Linked DNA regions of Homo sapiens: region 2 is linked to region 1. Evidence: fine-mapped expression QTL. A gene starts in region 1. The other region holds a variant in brackets. All regions are shown on one strand. Distances are from middle to middle. Region 1 holds the start of MYO16 (myosin XVI). Region 2 overlaps MYO16 (myosin XVI).

Region 1 (15,903 bases):
CATGGAAGAGGAGACAAGGAGGTGAGGGTCGAAGGCCACGGGCATGGGCAATCGTTTCAAGGTATGACCTGCAAACAAGGAAATGGGGTGGTGGCCCGAGGGAAGAGAGAACAAGGGGGGACTTTTGCTTAATTGGAAGATGGATGGATTGGCCACATATTCACTCTGTTGGAAGCTGATGCAGGAGAGAAAGGGGAGAGCTGAAGGGAAATGCAAGCTTGCAGGAGGCAGAAGGAGACAGAATTGCAAGCGCACTGGCCTTGGACACACAGGAGGAAATTCAGGACTGCAGGTGAGAAGTGGGCAAAGAGGAATACATGCGCAGACACTCTGCAGATTTAATGGTGGGAGGGTAGGTTTGTAACTCCTCAGCCTGGGAGATTGGAGTTAGAAGAAGGGGTCTCTAGGCATGAGCAGTCGTGCCTACCGTAGAAACAAGACGAGGGTACAGGAGAGTGCTGCCTGCCTGGGTGAGATGTTTGATCATGATGTTAAATGAAATCAGTCTGCTTTTGCTCTGATGTCCTCCTTCAAGGGTCATCCAGCTCCTCTGGGGCAAGGACAGACATGCTGGAAAGGGGGGTTCCACCTTGGGTAGGTATTCGTCACTCGAGTGGAACAGAGGGAGGTGAGGGCAAGGAGTGAAGTGGCTTCAGCAATGGACTATGGGCGCTGGACCAGGCGGAGAGCAGGATATGGGAGAGTGAGGACATGGAGGGAGCAGCTTCTGGGTGTGTTAGTGCATTGCAGAAACACTGCAGTGAAAGTTCTTGAATGAGCGAACAGTGTGTGCGATAGCTAGAAAAGTGAGGAAAGCATTTTACTGGAGGTGGTGTTCATCAGCATGAGTGGCTTGAGGAAAAAAATGGGTTTTAACCTTGGTATCATAAAACATGTTTAATATGTGTGATCATTAATACTCAGTGTCAACTTGGTTGGATTGAAGGATGCAAAGTATTGTTCCTGGGTGTGTCTGCAAGGGTGATGTCAAAGGAGATTAACATTCAAGTCAGTGGACTGGGAGAGGCAGACCCACCCTCGATCTGGATGGACACCATCTGATCAGCTGCCAGTGCAGCTAGGATAAAAGCAGGCAGAGGAACATGGAAGAACCAGGCTGGCTGAGTCTTCCAGCCTACATCTTTCTCTCATGCTGGATGCTTCCTGCCCTTGAACATCAGACTCCAAGTTCTTCCGCTTTTGGACTCTTGGACCTTTGACCACAGACTAAAGGCTGCACTGTCAGCTTTCCTACTTTTGATATTTTGGGACTCTGACTGGCTTCCTTGCTCCTTAGCTTGCAGATGGCCTATTGTGGGACCTCACCTTGTGATTGTGTGAGTTAATTCTCCTTAATAAACTCCCCTTTATATATACATCTATCTTATTAGTTCTGCCCCTCAAGAAAGCCCTGACTAATACAACATATAAAGTAACAGATTTTCTGATACAATTCGTTCTTAGGTGTTGTAAATGAATTCTCAGCTCTGGAGAATATTCATTTTAAATAACTTTAACCTTCCTCCTGCTGCAAACAATGCTGCCCCAAACCCGTATGCTTAGAGAAGAGCTGAACCAGGAGAGAAATAGGTCAGGTGTAGTTATTGCAATGCTTCACCCCCAGAGGCACGTGAAGGGAACTCCACAGGTAGACCTCAAGCCTCCGCTTCAGTTCATTAAAACAAAAGTAGTTTCAAGTCTCACATGGCCTTAAAGTTCTGTGAGCCCATGACTCCCTTGAGTTCCATTTCTCATTTCTGCTTGCGCCTCAGCTGGGGCCTGGTCATGTTCATGTGTTACCTCTCAACAGGCATGGGGCTCTGAGACTGGCTCTCACTGCAGATCTGTCTAAAGCTACTTCTCAGCTACCAAGATACATGAAATGGCCACACTTTTTGCTGTGGTGTTCCTACACTTTCCTGCTATATCCTGCTTCCACAGTAAATTTTTACACTCTAGTTTTTAACCCTTCTCTAAAATAAAGTAAAAATGTTTTACAAAGTAACAGATATTATCATAAACTGGAGATAACAACTGTTAGATTAAGTTTCGACCTTGAAGCGTATAATTTTTTCACCTTAGATGATGAGTATTTTCCCAGGTGACTAACAGTTCCTTGCGAGCATTAGCTATTGGTCACCCAGCATCCCACCTGAAGGCTTCCTGTGATTCACTAGGAGCACATGGGATGCTAATGTTGCACATTTCAGAAGGTCCTGCTCCTGCCCTGGAATTCATCCACTTCCTGCATTGCTGTCTGGCTTGAAAGTGAACGTGCTATGGTGATAAATCTGGCTCAGAATGAAAGACAGATATGTGGTAGAAATGCAGGACAGGCGAAGAAGGAATGGAGTGTGACGAAGGCCGATGAACCTCGCCAGCAGATCAGCCCAATATGGGAGACAACAATTTGGGAAAATCTTACGCATCAGGAACAACCATTAAACCATGAATTATGATCCTTATCAATAAACCCTTAGGATACCATGAGGGCATTCACTCTTTTTTTTTTTTTTTTTTTTTGAGTTGGGGTTTTGCTCTTGTCACCCAGGCTGGAGTGCAATGGCGCGATCTCAGCTCACCGCAAGCTCCGCCTCCCGGGTTCAAGCAATTCTCCTGCCTCAACCTCCCAAGTAGCTGGGATTACAGGCTCCCACCACCACACCCAGCAAAATTTTGTATTTTTAGTAGAGACAGGGTTTCACTATGTTGGCCAGACTGGTCTTAAACTCCTGACCTCAGGTGATCCGCCTGCTTTGGCCTCCCAATGTTCTGGGATTACAAGCGTGAGCCATCACGCCCGGCCTTCTTCTATATTTTGTTCATCCTTCCAAGATATAGCTCAAGATGCATTTTTTTCATAAAACACCCTTCACTAGTTCAGCACAGAATGCAGTATAATTTCTGAACTCCTTAACACATCGCACCATTTCTCCAGTAAAGTTAGCATTTCATAATATTCATGCTTCCTTTCCATTTTATAGACTGTCACACTCAAAGCTTAGAAAGCAGTCAGATCTTTAGTAAGTAGTTGCTAATTACTTTCAGAAATGCATCAGGAATGTTTAAATTCATTAATTTTAGATTTCATCTCTTATACTAGCATGCTAAAAGAAATATCTCACAGGCTCCAATTGACATCACCAATTTTCTGAAATGTCTACAATTTTCCGAAATTCTACAATCAAATAATTCAACTAAAACAGAACAAAAGGCAGGAAAGGGCAGACTCATATTGTGTTTGGTGACCAACTGCTCCCTGAATCTCTCACGTCCATGTCACTGTCCCTTTGTGCTTCCACCCATGCTCCATGGCTGCCCTCCACCAGGTGTGTTCAATGTGTCTAATGAGCATCCAGGTTCCTTGTAGGAAAGATGCAGAGTTTTTCCTCTGCAGAGGCACAGCAAGGAAAATAATGACATTCTGCTAGTGCAGTAAAACACGAGAGGCAATACAAAAACCAGTCAGAGTATTGCCCTGTGTCTATTTCTCCAAGAAAATAACCCCAAGAGTTAACAGATTAAAGCAGAAGACTATTCTCAAAATTCTTAAATACGCTGCATGCCTCTAATTCTTATTAGTTAAAGAGCTAATCTGCAAACTTACGAGATGACCAGTGAATCCTTTTGGGAATTGAAATTGTTCTGCAACATGAAAGCATGACATTCTTGGCAATGCTTAAGAGTAAGGCATTTTTATTTCCATTAATCATAGTTTTAATTCCTGTATACATTCTCTACCAAAAATAAGAGAAAGGTAAATATTTTCACCTTCTCAATCATCATTATTTTTTTAGTCTCCTTTAGTGCAAAGCTCAAGATTCATTCAACACATGTGTTCCCTTAATATGCTGCTTCAATTTAACATTGTGATGTCCTTTGGCAGCAAAACCTTAAGCTTAAAAGAAAACCATTTTCTGCAAATGTCATCTGTCACTTTAAGATCATGATATATATGTACAGAAGTTTTCAGAAGTGCTGCAGGGGACAAAAATGTATATCCAGCAAGCCATTTTTGGATAAATATGTCTTCCTCTTCATTATTACCATCCAGAATTGGTTTAGATGGAAGTATTCTCTAGCTCAGAAAATTCTGCCAAAATTTCAGACGCTAAAGAAACCCTTGATAAGCCCAAAAGAGAACCTGGTGACAAACTAAATTTCACCATATGAACATCAGTGGAGAGCATTTGGTACAGAGTCCCTGGAGTCCCTAAGCACCGCAAGGTGAATGATACAAGGACAAAAGTTTACAGTCAAGGATAACCCTAAAGATCACACTTACAAAAAGCATTGAATAGAGGCTTAAGCAGTAAAACTTGAGACTAAAATACTAGCTAAATGACCTCAGCCATATATTAATAAACTTAGTTTTTATGTACTTTATTAACATGTGCCAATGAGCAAAAATATGCTTTTGTAATTTCTTTCCATGTGTTTCTGGTGTTTTTTTTTTTTTCTGGTTGCTGTGTCTATGAATCATTTTTTTTAAAAAGCTGAAGTTTTAAAGATCTCTGTGCTATTAGCATTTGGATCACACTGGAATTATTTCACAATCTAAAATTAAAAGGAAATATATCCAGCCTGTAAAATATTCTTCTAAGTCACCAGTCTATGTCACTCATCTGAATGTGGTATACCAGGAGAACTGCCTTAATTTTGGCATCTGCACAAAATAATACTTCAACAAGACAAATAACCACATGAGCAAGATATCAAGCTTACTTACAGCACTTGATAAAATGATAGTGAGACATCTTTCCATCTCAGACAGGAATCTTGCTACGGGTTCCAGCATTCTCTTCTGTCACAACTGTCGTTCCCAGGAAATGCATTACTTAAAGCCCTTACTCAGGTAACAGTTTACCTCAGGATGCACTATTGCATGGAGGCTCTGTTCCATGATCCTGCAAAAAGCTTCAAACTCATTCTCATTCGGCAGCTGGAGTTAAGATAAGCCTCTCCCCGGTGGGTCTTGAGGCACCACTGGTGCACGTGCTATTGTAGCACCCTTGATTGACACAGCCCCGAGTACCACAATCCCGGGAATAGTCAGCTCTAATTGGTGTTCACATGCAGCCACATTCTGCTGCACGGAGGTGTGCTGCAGTGCGGCTCTCCCGGTCCTGCCTGTTAATGGCTTTTCAATAGCTTTCAAATGGCAGCAAACTAAGCTGATGAGTGGGCTGGAGAGAAGCCACGGATAGAAGGATCCTAAATCTTCTTCGTGCACACTGTCCATCAGCCACATATGACCAGATTCTTAGCTGGTAGTAAAGCGGATTATTTTTAGTTGCCACCAGTTGCTGTGTGTGAATAGGAAATTGATAGCAGGAGCTTAAAATAGCCACCTCTTAGAATCAGAGATCTTTGATCTGTCCTTAGTAATGAAAAACTTGCATTATATTTCAAAACACATCTTTCTGCTTTTCTGAGCAGAATGTAAAACTTAAATTATCCACAAAAAGCTTTTGGTTTGCATAGCTTTAAAATTTAGGATTCTCCTACCTCTGCAGACTGCAATGAATTTAACTGTACAACCCAACTGGATGAAGTAAATCTGACTGAATTGGAATCAGAAAGAAATATATGGTCTGCTAGGGTTTATTGTTATAAAAGTGAATATCATACTCATAATGAAATAGCCATGGTAGCAAACCAAAAGGTTATATTTTAAGTTGTTTACAAATTCAAAGTGATACATTTTTTTTGCAAATTGATACATTTTTATGATGATCTTCTCCAAAGACAAGTTGACATAGTCTAGAATTTATGTTTCAGGTTTGAGGTTATAGGAAAGGTAAACATGAACAATATGTTAAGTGCACCCATCCTTCTGTGGCAGTAACATAATTTTGTATTCCTTACTGAACAAAACTCAAAGAGCAGTGCTTTTATTAAACTAGAAGATTATGAAATTCAAATCTATACAACAAGGGGTCATGACTATTACATTTTCACTGAATAATATTCTAACACATTTTAGTAGCGTGATGTAAAATAATAAGTTGAAGATTTCGCACAGAACAGCCTGATGTCAAATCCAGCTTCTACCACTTACCAGAGTATCAATGTAAACACATTATTTAACCTGCTAAAGCCTCAGTTTCCTCATCTATGCATGTGAAATATAATTCCTAATCTTTATTCTGAAGGTTAGAAATAATGCACATAAAATTTCTGGTTTCTGTTGTTGGTGTTCATTGAAAAGTTGTCATTAACATTAACAAGGAAAAAAACTTATGTATGTACCAAATGATGATTATGGACGCTTTAACTTGGCTTTTCCAAAAATTAGAATGAGGATTTGCAGCCTTCATCAGGAATGCTGATTCCTCATTTATTCGTTGATTCCACAATTAATTATTGAGAGTCACTGTCACAAAAGTCACCATTTTGGGTGCTTTTCAGGAATAAAATATGTCTAAAACAGAGCCTTTATATACCAGGAATCTATAATGTATTTTTAAAGGGTTTCTTGGATGTTTTGTAATGTTTCAATAAAACTGTAAGACACAACTATATCTGTTTCCAACACGGGAAGTAAAGCTCTCTCCTCTTTAAATCAATACAAATCTTTACATGTGCATAAAATAACTGTGAATTTATGTGAATGTTATCTAATGTATCTTCGGGTAAGGTTGTATCCATGTAGATGTCCCTACCCCCTTCTCTTAATACAATGCCGGATAAATAGTATGTTGCCTATATACCTTCCTTAAATGTCTGAATGTCTTAATTTTCTGCAAATTGCATGCCTCTGCATGTATACAAACTCAGCAAACATCTTAAGACAATTGAGTTTAATGATACCATTCACTCTTTAAACTGAAAAAAAGCATAACACTCAGAGGGGCATGTTGTGCACTTGACAAAGAAAATATGTTATTAAAAATATAATTGATTTGAGCCCTACTTTTTTCAATAACTTAAGGCATTTCTTATAAGAACTTTAACCAAGGTACCCCGTGAGAATTAACATCTCATCTCCAGGGGCTCATTATCAAATGTGTTTATTTTTCATCGACTCATGTATTCCATAAACATTTGGCAACTCTTTGTGCTATAAGAGAAACTTGACTCCCTGACCTCAAAGTGCTTATCGTCAGATGAAATAGAGACAATCAAGATAGCACAGTGTTGTGTGCTAGAAACTGTAAGACTACAAATGTAGACCTCTAAAACAACAAGAGCCAACATCTAATCCACTTTGAGGAGTTGAAGGAGGATACACTGAGAAATGTATTCACAGATTTCTTAAACTACTTAGAATGTGCTTTCTATGTATAAACTGTATCTACATATAATTTCCCCAGATTAAGAAGCCCTTTTATCTTTTTGTCTTTGAAACCACATACTCATGCTCTAAACATTGGTAGAACTATGTTTAAACCTATTTACATATTTCATCACTACAAAACAAAAATTAATTTCTAATGCAGGCATTAATACTGAGGAAAATAATTTTGGTTCCATTAACTTTACTTCCTTCATAAAATTTTTTAAAAATGGTAACTTGAAGTTGATTAAAATTTCCTCCTCTATATCCATCCCTGAGAAACTCAACTCACTGTTGGGTGGTCAGAACAATAATTTCAGGACTCCTTCAATCATATATATATATAATATATAATATATATATTATATACAATATATATTTTTATATATATTATATATAGCTATATATAATATATATAATATACATATATACATAAAATATACATATATACATGTATAATATACATATATATATATACACACACATATATATTTTTCTTTTCTTTTATTTTCTCTTTTGAGATGGAGTTTCTCTCTGTCACCCAGGCTGCAGTGCAATGGCGCGATCTTGGCTCACTGCAACCCTCTGCCTCCCGGTTTCAAGCAATTCTCCTGTTTCAGCCTCCCAAGTAGCTGGAATTACAGGCACCCACTACCATGCCCAGCTAATTTTTGTAGTTTTAGTAGACATGAGATTTCACCATGTTAGTCAGGCTGGTCAGGCTTGACCTCAGGTGAGCCACCTGCCTTGGCTTCCCAAAGTGCTGGGATTACAGGCATGAGCCACCATGCCCGGCTAAATCTTATATTTTAAATATGGTATCAGAGTTGATGACAGTAGCAAGAAATGACCAAGGCTAAATTAAATATATGGTTAGCAATTTATCTATTTTGCAGAATATGGTCATTAAGTACAAAATTAAATCCATGCGTTCGAAAGAGGGTATTGTTTTGCATTTCCAGAAAATTTTCAAACGCATAAAGCACAATTATTTTATTATTTTTCAGTATTATTACAATGAACTATTGTTCTTTCCAAATACGAATGCATAATATTTCAAACTCATTTTTGAATAATCAAGAAACCCCTTTTTCTCTTTTATACACCATACAGCTGCTCATTATTCACACTATTTCTGATATGAACACATGATTTTTTTTCTCTTAAATGTTAGCATTATTATACACCAGATTTTTTCAAATAAGGCTAAATTATTTCCCAGCCAAAAACAAAAAAAGAAACTGCAATGATTCTAATGAGAGATAAGCATTCAAAAGTTAGAAATTGCTTAGTAAATATCTTTTAAAATGGGATACATGAGACACAGCTCCAAAAAGGCCCCAGGTGAGATACTACTTAATGTTTTCATTTAAAACCTATTTGGACAATGTAAAACATGTAGTTTCATAATGCCAGTCTGCTGACAGATAATTCCTAATCTAATAGTGCCTGCATTGACATGCTTTATTAAATGAAGAAATTAAAACTAAAGTTTGCAAACATCACCAATTTGGGAAAGGTACGTATTAACAGTAGGTCATGACAAAAATTCTAAATGAAGATATAAATCACACACAACAGTTTTTTGTTATGCAAATTTAAGCTCTGTGATGGGGCATCATTGCCTCTGCCCTGTGAATAGGTTGGGGCTTATAAATATTAGCCTTTGATGAAGTAAATTACACACATTTAGAGACCTTGAGCCACAGGTGTCTCACACACAATGGCTGACAGCTAAATTTATAATTTCCTCTATCACAAATATTGACTGCTTCTGGGTGAATGGAGTCAAGACCTCTCCTGGGAACATAACTCCGGTCTAATAACTTAGGGTCCTTTGAGGCTGAAGCCTACAGAGGAGAAAATATCTGAGTTGTCAAAAAATAAGGCATAAATACACTCAGCTCTTGCTATAGAATCAGCCTCTGGTCAACCCCTGGTGCCTCAGGACCAGGATCAAGCCTACCTTGAATGACTGAACATCCTTGACTCTCTCATAAAGTCCCTGATCTCAGTCTAGTGACTGTGGAGGTTGTTCCTGATTTTGGCCTGCCTGTGAAACCACTAGCTCTCGGATTCAGGACTCCACAGGGCTGTGTGTTCACTTCAGCTTCACGTAGTCTCACATTTCTCCAACCAGAACAAACGGACATTCAAGTTAGATGTGGGCAATTGTGAAGTAAATGAGAAGAAATTTACAATACAGACTTGCACAGTTGGAAAGAAGTAGGGGTTAATAGGAACTGCCCTCTCCATGTCAGAGGGCAGTGAGGGCTAACCCAGCTGAGCCCTGCTTTAGTGACTAAAAGTGAATTTGTCATATAACGGCTAGAAAATATCCCTGGTTATTCAAATACTTTCATAGAGTACTGATGTAGAAAAGAAATGCAATTTTAAAAACTGCTTCAAAAAGACTGAAAATTACTCTCTGTAATACAATATAGATTAATATAATAGCAAATACATGCATGTGCATTGATATGGATATATGAAGATACACACACACACACACACACACACACACACACACACACACACTCAGGCTATATGGGATGTTCTAATTGCTCCTTAAGGGCATTTGGCCACCCACTTCCTTTGGTGATTTTTTTCCCTAATCAAAATGAAATGTTTTAAATTCTAGTGAGGACCAGTTAAACTGGGTATCTAAAGCAGGACATTTGTAAAGCATTTGTAAGGTTTTTCACTTGAATCCGAACAACCACTTTGAAATCTTTCCAGCATATGCGTTACAACTATCTAGGAAGACTTTTCCATTTCAGGTGTTTGACCTTGGACAAAAGTTTGCATATCTTAATGGTGAATAAGAAACAGACCGTTTTGTTTTATGTCTGTATGACTCTACCTAGGTTTATGTGCACATGTGTGATATGGATGAATATGAGCACATGAATAATTAAGTATTCTTTGCCTTGTTCTTCAATCAGTTTGAGGGAATAAATAGTATACTGCAACCAGTTACCAGGAATAGGCAGATAAAAAAAAATTTATTGATGACGAAGCAAGTTTAGCGATTACTGTTGGCCTAAATAAGACAGCTGGGACACCAGGCTGAAATGTTTGAACAGATCTCTATACATTTGTCATTTAGAAGACAATATCTGAAAGTTTTTTGATGATCTAAAAGATATTCTTAATTTTCCCAAAAAGGATGAAAGGAATTGTGAGGCAATTAAATAAGAAGCCTCTCCTTCATACTTTTCCCATTGATATACATGGATTTTTTAAACAAAATATGCCTCTTTAGTTGAATCATGCTCTTATTTACAATTTAATCACACTAAGTTACCTATTCAAATTCCATGCATTCTTCAAATTTACTTCAAGCCCATTTAATCTACAAACTGTTCTTGATTTTTTTATTGCTTAAATTATTCCTGACCTTCTCTAAAGCTTATATTCATTTTTTTCATGTACCAGTCAATCCAGCATTTATAATGCAATGCTTTGCATTTTTCTTAACTAGTTATCATAGGGAAGGCTCTTCCTAGGTAGGTAACTCGTTATTTGAGTCTCAGACCTTCTACTTTTCCTATTTCCTATGAAGTCCAAAACATTAGTGAACATTCAGAGATCAACAAAGGGAGAGCCAGAGAATTAGAATTGCTCTAAAGCATTTTCTGGTGCATGACATATAATGTCTTGAGGAATATTTTATTAAAGGCAGGATTATTGAACACTTAAGTAAACATAACTTACCATACATGACAGGAGAAGAAGAAAGAAATGAAGTGGAGTATAGCCCCTTCTTCATTCAAGCATGTAGGTACAAGTAGACTGAGTGTATATTGTTTTTCAATATCCCCCATGAAGGCGCCATTAAAACGGATCATAGGGAGATCTGGCTGCAAGTTTGACTTTCTTCTTCTAAATGAATTCCCTTGTTGCTAATTTTCTTTGAGTGACAATGGATACAATATAGTCACTAGAGAGGTTCCCAAAATTTAACAATATTTTAAGGTGTTCTAGAAAAAGAATGTACACTGAAATATCCAAATTCACAAATGACATTAAATTATTTCTCCAAACTGAAGTCTCAGGCCTTTTGGATAAGTTTAAGTAGCCCTCATTGTTACGATATTGTTCTCCATAAATATTTTCTCCTATCTGCACAGTTTGGGCTGTCAGAGGAAAGAGCATTGGCAGCCTTGGTTAAATGGTGATTACATAAAAGCATACCTTGGAAGCTGGACGTCGTGTGTGTAGCTCTGAAGCAATTTGGAGAATTACCTCCCAGGCCCATGGGCTTATATTTCAGGGTGATAAGCCTGGAGACTTTCTCTTTTCTTCTCCAAGAGAAAATTTGTTTCCTTTTCTCTCTCTCACTCTTTCTCTCAAATGGGCATATGTGCAGCTTATAAAAGCTTAGAGTCCTTGAACTCTTTGGTTCCTCTCCTGTGTTACAATTCCACTGCCCTTGCAGGATGATATCAGGCTTTCCGTCCATTGCTTTTTGAATAGTGGGGCTTTGGAAACCAGTGCCAGGATGCTCTGTGAGTGTGGTCCGTGCTCTGATCCATGTCTCTGATTCATGATCCACGACTTCATGTTTCCCATCAGAATCTCTCTTAGCCTATTTTGGCCTCTCCTCTTACCTCCTCTTCCTCTCGTCCATCCCCCACCATCCCTCTCTTTTCCATCCCCCACCAACATCTGCCTTCCCCCCTCCTCCTTTTCTCTTCCTCCTCTCCCTGTCTCTCTCTCCATACTTCACACTCCCATAAATAACTGGAAGGACTTCTCAGAGTAAAGCAACAGACACAGATAAATTCTGGCCACAGTGCATGAGGCTAATGAAACCGTAGAAGACTGGGACATCCTTTCCCTGACCAAGGCTCCTCTAGTGGGTTGTCCCTCCTTACTTCTATTTCAGTAAACTTCCTTGGATATGAATCCTGTATCTGTCACTCCCTAAAGGTCAGGTCACCTGGTTGAGGTTCAAATTCCTGTGATAAGAAATGGCAGCTGTAATGCCAAGCGCCCAGGGTTCTTCTGTACAAGCTAGGTGCTCAACAAGTACAATTCCAACCATCACGATGTGACTATTTCACACACCCCTGATGTTGTATTGATCTAATGCTATCTTTATATTCATGAAAATATTTATTATGTGATTTGCCTTGAAGACATCACTGCCTTTCCTAGAGTCTTGCAGGTATCAATGACTAGTAGAAACCCCTTCACAGTAATTATGCCATGTTTACCCATGAACCAGGTACTAAACAAGTAAACTTTATACAGTATCCTCCCAATCTGTGGGGGACACTTTCCAAGATCCCCAGTGGATGCCTGAAACCACAGATAATATGGAGCCCTATATACACTGTTTTTTTTTCTATACATTTCTATACTATTCCTATGATAAAGTTTAGTTTATAAATTAGGCACAGTCTAATTTAGAGATTAAGAGCAACAATGATAAAACAGGACAATTATAGCAAAATACTATAATAAAAGTTAGGTGAATGTGCTGTCTCTCATTGTCTCTCTCTCACAATATCTTACTGTACTGTACTCACTCTTCTTCTTGTGATGATGTGAGATGATAAAATGCCTACTGATGCCTGATGTGAGGGGAATGACGTAGGCATTGGTATGGAGCAGGCTACTATTGACCTAACACCGCAGCCAAGAGAGGATCATCTGCTTCAGATGGCCCAGGATCACTGAGCCACGACAATGTCGATGACTGGATGTCAGGAGTAGACGACGTGGATGATTAACGAGCAGGAAGCATGTAGTGCTTATACAATGGACAAAAGGATGATTCATGTCCAGAAAGAAATGAAGCTGGATGGCATGAGACTTCATCATGTTACTCCATGCATGGAACAGCATGCAATTTAAAATTAATGAATTTCTAGAAATAGAATACAAATATTAAATGGAAATTTCTAGATATTTCCATTTAATATTTCAGACTGCAGTTGGCGGTGGTTAACTGAAACTGCAGAGAGCAAAACGGCAAATAAGTGGGGGGACTACCATAGAATTCTATCAGCCCTGGAAGTCTTTGTTGAGCACTCAACATGCAACAGTCATGAATCAGACCTAGACCCTACCCTGTGGAGCTTACAAAGATTATACACTGGGAAACAGAATTACAGAGACTACACTAGAAAATGCATGGCATTATGGAGCAGGCACCCGAAGCTTGAGGGTTTGCAGTGTGTTTCTGAAGATGTGGTGCCTAGCACACACCAGAGGATGAGTAGGAAGAGATTAGGCAAAGCAGGTGGGCAGAAGAGAGGTGTGTGGTATCTTCATGACATGTTCAAGAAATAAACAGAAATGTTTGGCAAGGCTAAAGGATAGTACCTGGCACAGCCAGCTGAGGGGTGAGTTAGAGAGGTAAGTAGAGGCCAGGCTGCGGGGTGGGGATGGGAGGCTCTGTTCCTTCTCATGAGTCATATAGAGACAAGGAAGCTTTTAATGCAGAGGAGTGGGATGTTTAGATCTGAAATGCATAAATATCATAGGAAATTATTGGAGCAGGAGAAATAAAGAGGATAGTGTGTTTGGGAAGTGGAGGCCACTCAAGGCCCCCAAGGGCGAGGAACTGGGGACAGAGCAGAGGCAGTGACAAGTGGGAAGTGGACAGCACATCCCATCATCGACCAAAAGGTGAGTCCTCCTCTTCCTGTCTTGAAATCTCCATCCCTATCTCTGCTTCCTTCTTTCCACAGTTTCCTCATAAAGGCGGACTTGATCTGACCCAATGAAATATTTCCTTAATTTATCTAATGTTGCCAATACTGGAAACCTCTCATCCCTAGAAGCCCAAAATCCAGAAGTTCCACCCACAGACTTTGCATCAAGAGAATGAGTCTGGGATGCCTGAAAACAGTAACATGAATGCATGCTCTTAGTACGGTTCATCCCTGCTTCCTCTCTTCTTCAGTGTGGCTTCAACATCAAACATCAGAGCAGCCCTAAAACTCAGGTAGTCAAAAAATAAATACGTTAGTGTTATTCCCTTTAGCATTTCCAGAATAAATATTCAGATTTATTATTCAAAAAGTAAGAAAGTTATAAATAAGCTTCTAAGTGAATATTTCTAGGAAATGACCTCCATTTTTTAAGGCTTCAACTTATATAGCAAACAATTAAAAAGTGCTTATTATGTGGTAAGCATTATTCTAATATCTTCATAGGCATCGATTCATTTAAGAATCAGAACAATGTAGTGGGTACTAATACTTTTTTAACAGATGAGGAAATTGAGGCACAAAGACTAAGCAAGATGTCCAAGATCATTCAGCCATAAAGGAGCATGACTCTGTTGACCAAGTCATTCAGGCTACAGAGTCCACCATACCTTTCATCATGGGGCAATACCCCTCCTGCTAGGTGGTTTAGGCTTAGGTTTCCAGTATGCCATTTGCCTTCAACTCCTAGCACAGGCCTTTCTTCTGTCTGTCACATTTTTTCTACCTTCCTCACCGCGCATCGTCCCTTGCCTGATGAACTTCAACCCTACATGTTGGTGTTGTGTATATAGGGAGAGAGAGGGAGAGGGGAGGACACACATAGGAGAGACATCTGGAGAGGAGAAGGTGGAGAAGGGAAGGGGTTGTGTAAAATGAGTAGAAAATAAGTGTTCAAGGGTCACAGCGGGCAAACTGCCTCCCGATCAGTCCCTTCCCCTTTCTTCTTGGCCAGGTTAGCTGCACTGATGTATCGCTGTGATACCTCCTGATGCTACATCCTATTACTGCTAATTTACATCCTGCGTGGGCTTTCTCTCAAAATGCTGACATGATGCTGCTACATTGATGTTTACTTTTACACCCTCGAGTATCTATCAAGGCAGACATTTCAACATACAGACCCAGTCAACCAAAAGTGTCAAGAGAAGGAAAGTGTCAAGAAAAGATACAGATCGGAAGTAAGATTTTATCAAGGGAAGAGGTATATATGTTTATATTTGAAATTTAAGAGTATAGCAGGGAACCGAATTTTAGAGTCTCGTGAAGTAGCTAAGCTGTAGCAAATTTAGTAGACATTTAATAATTTTTTAACATATCATGAATACTGGCAATTACATCTAAGGTGCTAATATGATAAGAATTATCTCCAGACCACAGAAGATATTGATATACATCTCTAAAGCCAAATATGTAAGTGTTAGTTGAGTGGATTAAGGTAAGTTGTAGTGCGATGGTTGTGGAGAAGTATCACCAAAATAAAAGTCTTACATGAATCTGATGGGGGATATTTTGAGAGTGTCAAATTTATGACTCTGTTTATTTACATAAAATCCAAAAACAGGAAAAAATTATGATAATAGAAATCAGGCAAATGGGCTATTGATAGGAAAAGGGCTCTAGGGAACTTTCTAGAACAAATGGAAATGTTTCATATTTTGATCTCGTGGTGGTTGCACACGTATAAATATAGAGAGATACATTAAGATTGGTTGAATTGTACATGTAGTATATATGTGTTTTACTGCATGCAAATTATAATCTATTGTTTAAGTGTTGTAAATAGTGACAGAGTTCCTAACATAGCAGCAACAGACACAGTGAGAAAAGGATTTCTAAGGGTGTAAAACTAAGGTAACTCAGAAGCATTGGTTCATTCTACATTCACTCATTCAACAA
Region 2 (8,000 bases), 260 kb before region 1:
GTCATGATCATCAGCATAAGCAAGGGTGGAGTATCCTCTAAAATAATATTTTATTTCAACCTTAGGAAAATCATCATGAACTTCCAGGCATCTGGAGTGATTTCCAAAAGAAATATAGAAATGGAGAGGGTTCCATCTCTAGGTAGAGGCCCCTAGAGAGCAGACTGTTGATTTCCATTCTTTTGGATTGGTTATTGGTTCCTGTCCTGTCTGTTCCCCCCACTGTTAGCCATTCCTTCCAGTGGCCTTTCAATGTCTTCTTCTGATCTGCTATGGTCTGAACAAACCTTTTAACAAAACTTGCTAGAACTATGTATAAACAACAGAATCAGTCTATGGATAAGCACCTGTGGTGGCCTCCTTGAGTAAAATTTCTGAGTTTGATTATGTGGGATGTTTTTAGCTTTATCTTAGCTGCTAACAGGTCTTTTTGCTTCCTCCTTGAATCACGGTCATATTTTAGAATGATGAATTAGCGGGACAGTTAACACTGCAAATGTTTCCAAATAGTTTAAAATCTGTTTTGGCCCCAAAGGTGCATGGCCTGCCCATCGAAGTCTTTAAGGATAACTATTGCCAATTCTTTCAGATACACCAAAGATTTATTATCAGGCCCCAGTGATCCCTCACAATAATTTCTTTTCTGGCCAGCTCCCCAAAATGTCCTAACACACCAAAGTGCACTTTCTTTTTCTTTTCTTTTTTTTTTTGAGACAGAGTTTTGCTCTTGTCCAGCTGGAATGCAACAGCATGATCTCAGCTCACCGCAACCTCTGCCTCCCGGCTTCAAGCAATTCTCCTGCCTCAGCCTCCTGAGTAGCTGGGATTACAGGCACCAGCCACCACTCCTGGCTAATTTTTGTATTTTTAGTAGAGACGAGGTTTCACAATGTTGGCCAGGCCGATCTCGAACTCCTGACCTCAGGTGATTCACATGCCTCGGCCTCCCAGAGTGCTGGGATTATAGTCGTGAGCCCCTGCGCTCAGCCTCAAAGTGCACTTTCTTTGTGAACAACAACATCTACCTATATTACGTGTTTTAGATCCAACTATTCGGAGCAAATACAAAAAGAAAGTATGTACAAAATATTTTAAATATGTAAAATAAATAAATGTTCACTCGAACAGTATTTATTTGAACCCAAGCTCAATAATTTTTTATTCTTTATTTCCACAAATTTTGAACCCCCTTGTATCTATTATGATGTCCCCTCCCCTATTTGTAAATGACAACTGGCTGAACATCTTCATTCACATATTTGCCAACCCAAACAAAAAACTTACATGTTTGAATCTGGAATCCAGTGTGGCCCTGCTGGCGCCAGCCCTGCAGGTGAGGTGTCTTATGATTTGTTTGCTGGCTTCAGACTTTCCTGATCCCCTTTCTCCACTAAGGAAAACAGAGAGGAAAAACATAAGTTTGAAGGAACTTTGCTTCAAAGCTTGTTCCTTTGTTCCTTTGAAACTACTTTGAAGGAACAAGTAAAAAAATTAACTGGAGATATTTCTCAGACACAGAAATGAGGAGGGAATGGCACATCTACTTGCAATGAGTTTGTGGTCTCCGTTCACACTTCAATTTGATTCATTTGTCTGAAATACCCAGTATATGTTGACTGTGTCATGTCCCTGATGGTGTTTCAGATGCTGGCATTACAAATGAATATGACACAAGTTCTGCCATTCAGTATCTCACAGGGTAGAACCACCTAGTGTAGGTGAATTATGCCAGAAAGGTGTCAGGCTGAGAAGAAGACATAACCAACTTGACTCAGCTTAGCAAGTCAACATAAAGTGAGGCGATCCCGAGACAGCATGCTGTGTTGAGACATGCAGGCTCACACATGGCCTTGGGAAAACTGTTCATGCTTCATGGGCCTTACAGGAGAGACGTTACCTCTTCTGTGGAAAAGCTGTGACATCTTTCTGAGCATTCCTTCTCTGTTCTTTGAAATGAACATAAAGTGCCTAGCTACAAAAACTAAGGCAGTAAGGTCTTCAGATGTGGATCTGTCATTCCGCAGATCCTACTAAACCTGACCTGCTTAGGTTTCCTTTTCCGCTTGCTTTCAGTTCTGATGTTCTCTAGTTTGCATTTTTCTTTAATCTAGGAAAGATCACTGAACTTTTATTTATAAGGGCATCACTTTTAATACATCCCAGGCATACTTCATTAACTCACCCAATTTTTAAAAATGGTAAATATTATATTCCTGACACTATATGATATAGGATTGACATAAAATTCCCACAAAATAATTATTATTTCAAAGTGATGTGATCTACAATAAAGTTATTACTTCATCCAGATGAAAAATTCATAAAAACAGCCTTTACTTATTTGGTAACCAGAAAAACTTTTTAAAGCCCTTTTAGGAGAGCTTCCTTGGTTTTCTGCCTGGAAACATCTATTTTAACAAAGTTAATTAACAGTGTTTGCCAGAAAAGAAGTAAGTTGAAATTTAATTATTTGTTTAAAGTGTCGAGTCGTTAATGGATGCTTCCACTCACTTGTGCAGACTTTTGAACTACTGGGGCCTAAGAGTATCAACAAATGAGGTATTAAGTTAATATTAGAAAACAAAATGAAATTTTTTCTGGTCTGGTACTGAGTTTTGGGACATCCATTCCAGGACTACTTGCGTTTTGATTGCTAAATCTTAAATTACCCTTTGTAAGTGCTCGTTCTGGGACACAACTGACACTCAATAATGATCCGTTAACAACTTATTAAGTTGAATTTCAAATGGCTAATTTTATCATATTCGTAAAAATGGAGAAAGCATGTATCTTAGCCCACACAATCAAGGATGTGGCAAAGCTGTATGAAAGCACACACAATTTTGAAAGAAGAAAGAGAATCACTAAAACAGTAAGTCCTAGTAACCAGAGATTTGCTCTTCCATTCTGTATATCAGGACTAGCGATACCGAAAGGAGTTCTCCAGCTTGCTTCAGGCAGACAGTCAGGGAAGGGTCCCCCGAGAAGCTCCGACCCGCCCCACGAGTGCTTACGTCAGATGTTTTGTGCCGATAAGGGAACTTGCACAGGGGGCTTTGCCTAAACAAGCCTGCGGTGGAAGAGTCCGTTCCTTA[G/A]CACACGTGCAGCAAGGGAAATCAATCAATATGGAGCAGCTCGGCCTCAGCATGCGCACTGGAAGGACGGGGGGTGGAGCCGCCAGCAGTTTGCGCCCTAAGCTCTGGTGGTATTCAACTGAGAAGGGGGCACCAGGCACCCTGCTTCAGGACCCCTCTCTGCTGAGAGCTTCCCTTTCGCATAATAAATTCTACTCCACTTACTCTCTCGTGTCCGCACGCCTCATTTTTCCAGGTCGTGAGGCAAGAACCTGGACGTAGCCGAGCTAAGGAGCAAAATCCTGCATCAACACCTTCTTGAAACTTGAATGAAGAGGTATTTTTTCAAAATAAGGGGTTGGTACAGGGAATCATTAACTTTAAAAAATGACCCAAAGGAGGGCCGGGCGCGGTGGCTCACGCCTGTAATCCCAGCACTTTGAGAGGCTGTGGTGGGCGGATCACAAGGTCAGGAGATCGAGACCATCCTGGCTAACACGGTGAAACCTCGTCTCTACTAAAAATACAAAAAATTAGCCGGGCGTGATGGCGGGCGCCTGTAGTCCCAGCTATTCGGGAGGCTGAGGCAGGAGAATGACGTCAACCCGGGAGGCGGAGCTTGCAGTGAGCCCAGATCGCGCCACTGCACTCCAGCCTGGGCGACAGAGCGAGACTCAAGACTCCATATCAAAAAAAAAAAGACCCAAAGCAAAACTAGTTCTGCAGAATATATACTGGATAAAAAGTTCCATGAGCAAATACCTGTCAAAACTGTTGGGTTAAACTAAGATAAACGGGGTTCTTCATAAGAAAACTTGCTGGCCGCTGTGTGCCATCTCCCGGGCGGACTCCCAAAGCGCATGGGCCTGCTGCTCCTCCTTTTCTCCCCTTAGAGCCTTGCTCAGGACCCACGCTTTCAAAAACTGACCTATAACAGCTGCAATGATCATCCTAGAATTAAGTGGGAGCACTCAAAAGTTATGTAAATTCTAAAGAAATAAATAATACATAGAAATAATCTAGTCAAGGGTCTGGCAGCCAGTAAATTCTCAATAAACATTAGTTGTTATTGTCAACAGTGTTAAACTCTCCCTGTCTCACCAATTGACAGTGTTTTTTCTAAGCAACTTTTAAAAAGTTTTCCCTATTTATCAAAGGAAGACCAGGAAACTGGACAGACAAAGCAGATAAAAATAGGGTTGCCTGAGTCTAGAACGGGTGGAAGCCCCCATCTCTGCGCCTTTCTCATCCTTGAGTCCAGAATGAGTGGCCAGGTACAGTAGCTCACACCTGTAATCCCAGCACTTTGGCAGGCCGAGGCAGGTGGATCACCTGAGCTCAGGAGTTCGAGACCAGCCTGACCAACGTGGTGACACCCCCGACTCTACTAAAAATACAAAATTAGCCGGGCGTGGTGGCACATGCCTGTAATTCCAGCTACTCAGGAGGCTGAAGCAGGAGAATCACTTGAACCCAGGAGGCAGAGGTAGCGGTGAGCTGAGATTGTGCCATTGCACTCCAGCCTGGGCAACAAGAACGAAACTCCGTATCAAAAGAAAGAATGGGTGGAAGCCCCTGCCTTGGTGCCTTTCTCATCCTTGAGTCTAGAATGGGTTGGAGCCCCCACCTCAGTGCCTTTCTCATCCTCGTGTCTAGAATTGGTGAGAGCCCGTCTCAGCGTCTTTCTCTTCCTTTGAGTTTAGAATGGATGAGAGCCCCTGTCTCAGCATCTTTATCACCCTCGTGTCTAGAATGGGTGAGAGCCCCTGTCTCAGTGCCTTTCTCATCCTTGTGTCTAGAATGGATGAGAGCCCCTGTCTCAGAGCCTTTCTCATCCTCATGTCTAGAATGGGTGAGAGCCCCTGTCTCAGCGCCTTTCTCATCCTTGAGTTTAGAATGGGTTGGAGCCCCCGCCTCAGTGCCTTTCTCATCCTTGTGTCTAGAATGGGTGAGAGCCCGTGTCTCAGAGCCTTTCTCATCATTGAGTTTAGAATGGGTGGAAGCCCCTGCCTCGGTGCCTTTCTCATCCTTGTGTCTAGAATGGGTTGGAGCCCCCACCTTGACGCCCTTCTCATCCTTGTGTCTAGAATGGGTGAGAGCCCCTGTCTCGGCGTCTTTCTCATCCTTGAGCCTAGAATGGGCAGAAGCCCCTGCCTCAGTGCTTTTCTCATCCTTGAGTCTACAATGGGTGGAATTCCCTGCCTCAGCGCCTTTCTCATTTTTGAGTCTAGAATGGGTGGAATCCCATGCCTCAGTGCCTTTCTTATCCTAGAGTTTAGAATGTGTCGAAGCCCCTGCCTCAGCACCTTCCTCATCCTTGGGATGCATCTGAACCCAGCACGAAAACAACCGCTAGCATGCTGCTTTGAAAACTAGAAAACTAAAGTGTGCGCCCATCAGTCTGTCCCTCCACCCTCCATAGAATTTTTGATGAAATGCATATAAACATATAAGCTCTCATTTTAATATTTAAATAAGCCTTTTGAATTCTATCCAGGTTCTAACTTTATACCATTTTCATTTCACTTTGACTCGAGTTGTGTGCTACTGTACTTATCCGTTGAGTTCCAACCAGCACTACTGACAACAACTAAGGCGCTACCGTGAGTGAGTATTTATAGAGCTTTCCCTCCCTTGTAGAGGTTTGGCTGAATATAAAATATAGGTCTCTGATGCAGATTTTAACATTTAAATGTTTCTTTAATTTTCTATTAATTGGTGAGTTAAATCTAGCATTACATTTCAAATTCAAAAAATATTCTGGGCCAAATGCAGTGGCCCATGTCTGTAATCCCAGCACTTTGAGAGGCTGTGACAAGAGGATCGCTTGAGCCCAGGAGTTTGAGACCAGCCTGGGCAATATAGTGAGATCTCATCTCTACAAAAATTAAAAAATTAGCCAAGTGTGGTGGCATGTGCCTGTAGTCCCAGCTACTTGGGAGGCTGAGGTGGGAGGATCACTTGAGCCTTGGCTGCAGTGACTGGTGATCATGCCACTAAATTCCAGCCTGGGTGACAGAGCAAGACCCTGTCTCAAAAAAAAAAAAAAAGTTTAGGAAGTAGAGTACAGTGAATTGTGAGCAAAGGTAAATAACAAGAAACAGGCTGAGAAAACATACCTTTGGAAAGAAATAAAATGATATTTGGGGCAGCCCTGGATTTTGAAGAACAGTGGCTTAGGTTCCGTAATATTGGTAGTTTTTCTTTCTCCATGTTTTCTTAGGTTCAAAAGCAAAAACTTTTTATCTAAGCTTTAAATCTTCAAAAGGAAATGAGTTTCAGGTTAAGTTTATTAATATTGATCCAGCTACACTTGGGGCTACTCCTAACAGCCAAGATGTTTCTCCTTTGTAACGAGTCAAATGTACTTATTGCAAAGATATACTGGACCTCAAGGTGCTGAGAAAGTAAATAAAGGTAAACCATAGGAAATGAGTACATCTTTACTGCCAAGCCCCGTGGCAAACCTGAGCCTGGCAGACAAGGTTGAGGAGGACTCACCTGAGGATGAAACACTGAGGCCGCTGTTCCCGGAAGAGCTGGTGAAAGGCTCTCTCCACACAGGAGAAGAGGTGAGGAGGCAGCGAGGAACACAGCTTCCCTGAGGAGCTGAAATACAGCTGGGACACCTGGAAAACAGGGCAGCAGCAAGGGGAAAACCTCAGTGAAAAGGCGCCAGTATTCCTCATCCCATAATGAGAGTGACTTCTGTCCAAGATACAGAAGTGAATGAATCCCTAATTCTGAATCTCATTGGTATGTAAAAACATTTGTAAAATTACACCCTTCTCAGCACATTTTCAGCATGCATAATGACAAAATGGAGGCTTATACTTTATCCTTCATTACTTGGTCCACAGGCTTTAATTATTCTGCTGTCTTTAAGAAGAGCAACTCACAAAATATGTTCTTTAATAGATATCTGTGCAGTAAGCTGAAACTGTGGTAATTTACAACAAATACAATTTCTCTCAGCAGTATTTAATTTCAATACCATAAGATAGCCAAGGTTTTAAACTTGAATGTGAGAGGCAGTTGCAGCTGAAATGCATATAAGTTTACAAATTTCTCAGAAAAACAAAAATTAATTAATTTTAGAGAAACGGTGATTTATAATTATTGCCATAATGATTCATTTCCAGTAGTTTTAGTCCTTTTAAATTTCTAGTAAATTTTATTACTTTAGAATAAAAACTCAAGAGTAGGAAGACTTCTTAGTTGTGAAGAAATCAAAGTTATTTTTATTGTACAAAATAACTGGCCTGTATCTTCAAAGATGTCAAGGTCAGAAAAGTCAAAAGAAGACTGCAGAACTGGTCCATACTGAAGGAGAGTCAAGGGCATGGTGGTTCAAAATGCAACGTGCAGCGCTGGCCTGAATCTCTAGCTCTATGGGCATTACTGAGACAATGGGAAATCCTGAACGAGGTCTCTTGATTCAGTGACACCAGTGCATCAGTAATAATTTTCCCATTTTGATGACTGTAGGGAGGTTACACAGGAGAATACCTTTGTTTAAATACACAGTAAACATATTTAAGGTTGATGGGACCACATGCCAGAAAAGTATTTTAAAATGCTTGATGCTCAGGGATCTGCTATTAGTCTGATGGGCTTCTCTTTGTGGGCAAACTGACCTTTCTCTCTGGCTGCCCTTTACAGTTTTTCCTTCATTTCAACTTTGGTGAATCTGACAATTATGTGTCTTGGAGTTGCTCTTCTCAAGGAGTATCTTTGTGGCATTCTTTGTATTTCCAGAATTTGAATGTTGGCCTGACTCGCTATGTTGGGGAAGTTCTCCTGGATAATATCCTGAACAGTGTTTTCCAACTTGGTTCCATTCTCCTCGTCACTTTCAGGTACACCAGTCAGACATAGATTTGGTCTTTTCACATAGTCCCATATTTCTTGGAGGCTTTGTTCATT

What was found. PIP is the estimated chance that this variant, and not a neighbour inherited with it, causes the effect.
Region 2: its variant is fine-mapped to the expression of MYO16 in testis (GTEx, PIP above 0.99).

The regions. Positions count from the first base shown.
Region 1 is chr13:108,618,699-108,634,601 of GRCh38, reverse strand. It overlaps MYO16 (myosin XVI), which reads right to left and starts at 4,991. Exons shown (of 35, transcript NM_001198950.3): 1 at 4,730-4,991. The coding sequence starts at 4,757.
Region 2 is chr13:108,881,762-108,889,761 of GRCh38, reverse strand. MYO16 (myosin XVI) reads right to left here. Exons shown (of 35, transcript NM_001198950.3): 13 at 6,576-6,703; 14 at 1,285-1,390. Among named protein-coding and RNA genes, the nearest start is that of MYO16-AS2, 220 kb to the left of the region's middle. The variant G/A (reference allele first, on the strand shown) is at 3,096.